Linked DNA regions of Homo sapiens: region 1 is linked to region 2. The links come from fine-mapping of genetic effects on gene expression. Tissue or cell type: monocytes. Region 2 holds a variant in brackets; the other region holds the start of a gene. All regions are shown on one strand. Distances are from middle to middle.

The links. PIP is the estimated chance that this variant, and not a neighbour inherited with it, causes the effect.
Region 1: BPI starts here. The variant in region 2 is fine-mapped to the expression of BPI in monocytes (Fairfax 2014, PIP 0.92).

The regions. Positions count from the first base shown.
Region 1 is chr20:38,302,623-38,305,122 of GRCh38, forward strand. BPI (bactericidal permeability increasing protein) reads left to right here and starts at 1,534. Exons shown (of 15, transcript NM_001725.3): 1 at 1,534-1,731. The coding sequence starts at 1,602.
Region 2 is chr20:38,349,974-38,352,730 of GRCh38, forward strand. LBP (lipopolysaccharide binding protein) reads left to right here. Exons shown (of 15, transcript NM_004139.5): 3 at 838-966. Among named protein-coding and RNA genes, the nearest start is that of LBP, 4.9 kb to the left of the region's middle. The variant C/T (reference allele first, on the strand shown) is at 1,411.

The sequences.
Region 1 (2,500 bases), 47 kb before region 2:
CAGAAGAATTCTAGTTGCTGCAGATGGAAGCAGGAGGGGAGACTCTTTTAGAACCAAACGAAGAGAGGAAGAAAAAAACTTTTAAGAAAAAAAGAAGAAAACTTCAGAAGGTCTCACGTCCTCCGAGCTCAGCGGACTTCATTAGACTTTCATAAAGTCCAAAGTCGGGGAGACAGGGCACTAGGGGGCTGATGAGGACCCAGCGGGAGAGAAGCTGGCTGCCCCTTCTGCAGCCCCGCCCCTCCTCTCATCACCATGGAGACGGAGCAGGCTGCCCAGTGGGGTTCCTGCCCACCCGAGGCCTGAGGCTGCTGCAGAGGGAGGGGCAGGGGCTGAGCAGACAGGGACCTGTCTGGAAAGCTGGGTTGGCGGTGGGGAGTGTCTACATCCCCCCAACTCCCAAGGCGCTGAGGGATTCGGGCTGGTGTGGGATGCATCTGGAGGGCTGTGTTTTGATCCTCGCTCTGCTAGCAGCTTGCTGAGTGACCGTGGGAAGAACGCTTCCCCTGGTGAAGCCTCAGGTTCTACATCTGCCAAAGGAAGGAGTAAAAATGTACAAAAACAGAAGCTTGGATAAGAAAGCTGTGGGATGAGGAAGCAATGAAATATTTAATGCTGGAGAAGAACATTTGCTACCTATTGTTTCTCGAAAAAAGGGAACTTTACCAAACTGACCAGGTGATCCCATATTGGTTAACAAACAAACATGGACTCTCTACCTATGCTTACCAACAAAAGAGGGAGAAAAGAAATACTCTAAAATACACTTTGGCTTGTCTCCGGAAGAGGGAGTTATATGTAATTTGTATTCTCTTGTTTCTTTCTCAAATTTTGGCCAATAAACATGGGTTACTTTTAAAATCAGGATAACATTAATAGCTAGCATTTGGATATTTATTTTGCACGGGCAGTATGCTAAATGCTTTACGTGGTTTTAAGCTCATTTTATCTTCTCCACAATCCAGAGAGGGAGCAGTACTATGTATTTCTCTTCTGCAGAAGAGAAAACCGAGGTTCAGAGAGGTTAAAGGGCTTGCCTGAGGTCGGACCACTAGAGAATGACAGGGCTAAGATTTAAAACCATAGCCAAGATACTAGACTCTAAAATGTGAGCATTGAATCATTACCACTACTGCCTCTCAGGACAAGAAAACACGAAAGCATCTGTTTTCTTAAATGTTTTACTATCAAAAATACAAAAGAAATCAAAAGTAGAAAGAAAAATATGAATCCTTATGTCTGTGCCACCCACCTTCAAGGGAGTCTGTAGATGGGGGCATTTGGGTGGGGACACAGAGCGGGGAATGGGGTGCCTAGGGAGGGGAACCAATCTACACACACACATACACACACGCACGCCCGCGCACACACACGCATGCATACATGGACATGCGAGCCTCCCAGGCTGCACTTCTCCCTGCCTGTGGGGCCCTAACCACAATGGAAAACCACAGCGGCCCTCCCTCTTTCCCACCCTCACCAGGTTCCTTCCTCCTTTCCACATTCTACTGACTTGCATTTCCCCAGCCGACTCTTTTATAGCTCCCTGGTTCAACCTCAAGGCCTTGAGGTTTTGGCAGCTCTGGAGGATGAGAGAGAACATGGCCAGGGGCCCTTGCAACGCGCCGAGATGGGCGTCCCTGATGGTGCTGGTCGCCATAGGCACCGCCGTGACAGCGGCCGTCAACCCTGGCGTCGTGGTCAGGATCTCCCAGAAGGGCCTGGACTACGGTAACTGGATGCCTCCCTTCCCTCCTCTCCACCCCTGAGGAGCACTTACTTAGCATCTACTGTGTGCACCCCTTTAGATCCAGCACCTGGCACACTCATAGCACCTCAGGGCAGGTCCCCTTGCCCCCATTTTATATATGAAGAAACTGAGGCAAAGCGAGTTGCCTAAGATTGCAGGGCTGGGATGGCAGAGCTGGGATTGGAGCACTGGTCTAGAGGACTCCAAGTCCAGTGCTCAGACCCCTGAGGGTCCTCATGGTCCCCTCCTTCCCTCTATGTAACCTCCACCTTTGACTTATAAGCCCTTCTCTTCTTTCCAAAGCCAGTTCTCAGCCTTGCCATTTGCCTCTCGTTGCTGAGGAGGCTGAGCAGGGTCAGAGGGAGAGTGTGGGAGGACCTCCCCACCCCGTGCTCTCCCCACTGCAGGGGCTGGCGGCCATACTGTGCACAGTGCTCCACTGGGTGACACAAAGAGGGTCCCCCCAGACCACTCACCCCAGCCCAGGCAGAGGAGAGAAAGACCTGCTCTAACCTGTGCCAGGCATTGAGCTAGGAACTTTACACACACAGTCTCTTTTACCCTCACTTCAGCCTTGTGTAAGACAAACTGCTGCTATCCACATTTACACGTGAGAAGTGGGCAGCCTGGATTTGAGCTCTGGTCTTGCCTGATGCCCCAGCACGGGGTTGCTCGATGCTGCCTCCCGATGGCAGAGAGATGACCTGCAAAACAGTGGGTGACACCCAGCCCCAGGGAAATCAGACCAAG
Region 2 (2,757 bases):
GATATAGTTTGGAAGAGAAGATAGACCTTACACTTTAAATGTAGTAGCCCAACGGTTAGAGCTGAAGTTTGTACTTGGGGGAGTCAGGGAAGGCTTCCAGGAGAAGGTGGCATTTGAGCCAAGTCTTCAAAAGATTACTAGACTTGAGCAGCTGATGCTTTAAAAGAGCGTGAACTGCTTTTTGAGGGATGGGCAGTGAAGAAACGACAATCAGACTCGTAGCACATTGTACCCCTCCCTGCTCACTGCTGTTGGGCGTTTCCTTCATTCCTGCCTTCTTTTATTCAGTCCATCAGCAAAAATCTATTGGGCACCTACTATGTGCCCGGCAAATAAAATAGAACTTGACCGTTCTTTTCCCACTGTGACAACCTTGCTGACTTTTTTGGGGTCTTATCTTAAGGCTGCCACCATCTTCCCTGAATCTGTTTCCCCCCTACCTGGATGTATTGAGAGAGAGGAGGGTTAGCAGGAACTGCAAACCCAAAGGGATATGTCTACGGACCTTCTCAGGATGCCACCGGGGGTCATTAGATTCATGGGTTCTGATGCAGACTGCAAAACCGTGAGCAATTGCATCCCTTCCTCAAGGTTCTATTTCCCCCTTTGTGGAAAGGGAGCAAGAACACTGCTGACCCCTTCAGTGTGGCCCATATGGCATGAAGAAAGTAACGTGCTTAGCATGGTCATAAGATCGATGCCTGGGGCACAGCAGGTGCTTACCTGGAGCAGATCCTGCTGGTCTAGTCCCCACTGTGGAGAGGGGAGGCGCAAGGTCCCTGGTGAGGCTGGGTCCAGGCCCAGGGCTGACACCTCCTTCCATGTCTCTCCCTTCAGCCTGAACATCCACAGCTGTGAGCTGCTTCACTCTGCGCTGAGGCCTGTCCCTGGCCAGGGCCTGAGTCTCAGCATCTCCGACTCCTCCATCCGGGTCCAGGGCAGGTGGAAGGTGCGCAAGTCATTCTTGTAAGTTGGCTCTGCTCCCAGGCCCTGGAGCTCTTGGCCTTGGCCTTCGCCCCATCCTTCTTAGGTCCAAGGTGTTCCTAGCTTATCAGAAAGGCCACGTGATGGACAGATGGAGTCCAAGCCCGGAGGTGGCCTGGGGATTGAGTCCTGGCTCTTGGATGAGTGTCTTTCTGTCTCTGAGTCTCTACTTCCTCATCTCCCAAAGGGGACGGGCCTGCTTCCTTGATGGAGTCATGGGAGGGCTAAGTGCGGTAATATCATGTCTCCTTGGTTTGCTTCCCACAGAAGCAGACTTTAGGGCAAGAATTCCAGTGCAATACTTTATCTTGGAAGCGATCTGAGGAAACCCACAGGGGAGTGGGGAAGTGAGGAAGGGAAGGGAAGGGAAGGAAGTCAGCCTGGTGGGCAAGTGAAGCTCTGTCTAGCTGGGGAACTCAGGGACAG[C/T]GGAGAACACGCCTCTGAGTTACTCCAGCCCCACGCTGTCACCCCGTCCTCCTGCTTGCCATTGGCCAAGGGCTGCTTCCAGGGGCTCTGGCTCTCAGGCACTTTGAACAGTTCTCTGACCTCAGAGGCACTTGGATGGAAGGGGTATTCATGTGCTAGGGCTGCCATAACAAGCATAGACTGGGTGGCTTAAGCAGAAATGTGTTTTCTCACAGTTCTGGAGGCTGAGGGCCAAGGTCAAGGTTTTGGCAGGCCTGGTTTCTTCTGAGGCCACTCTCTTTGGCTTGCAGATGGCTGCCCTTTGGCAATGTCCTCACGTGGTCTTTCCTCTGTGCTCAAGAAATCCCATTTCTGAGGCCATGCACGTTGGCTCACCCCTGTAATCCCAGCACTTTGGGAGGCTGAGGCGGGAAGATCACTTGAGGTCAGGAGTTCAAGACCAGCCTGGCCAACATGGCAAAAATCAGTCTCTACTAAAAATGAAAAATAAATTAAAAATTTAAAAATTAGCCAGGTGTGGTGGCAGGTACCTGTAATCTCAACTACTCAGGAGGCTAGACAGAAGAATCGTTTGAACCCTGGAGGCAGAGGTTGCACAGAGCTGAGATCATGCCACTGTACTCCAGCCTGGGGGACAGAGCGAGACTCCATCTCTAAAAAAAAAAAAAAAGAAAAAAGAAAGGAAAGAAACCCCGTTTCTCTCTGTATGTCCTAATCTCTTTTTATAAAGACACTAGTCACATTGGATTAGGGCCCACCCTAATGGCCTCATTTAAATGTAATCACCTCTTCAAAGGGCCTATCTCCAATACTGTGACATTCTCAGGTACTGGGGATCAGAGCTTCAACATCTGAATTTGGGAGGCAGGTGGTGACACAGAGCAGCCCATAGCAGAAGGAACAGCCCAAATATGGGTGATATGACCATATTTATACTTCAGACCTGCACTGCCTAAAATAGAAGCCACCAGCCATGCCTTTACTGAGTACTTGAAAAGTGCCTGGTACAAGTTGAGATCTACTCTAAGTATGCAACACTGGATTTGAAGATTTAGGATTAAAAAACAAACAAACAAACAAAAAAACAGCAGCTGAGCACGGTGGCTCATGCCTGTAATCCCAGCACTTTGGGAGGCTGAGGCAGGTGGATCATTTGAGGTCAGGAGTTCAAGACCAGCTTGGTCAACATGGTGAAACCCCATCTCTACTAAAAATACAAAAATTAGCTGGGCGTAGTGGCGCATGCCTGTAATCTCAGCTACTTAGGAGGATGAGACAGGAGAACCGCTGTAGCCTGGGAGGCGGAGGTTGCGGTGAGCCAAGATCACGCCACTGCACTCCAGTCTG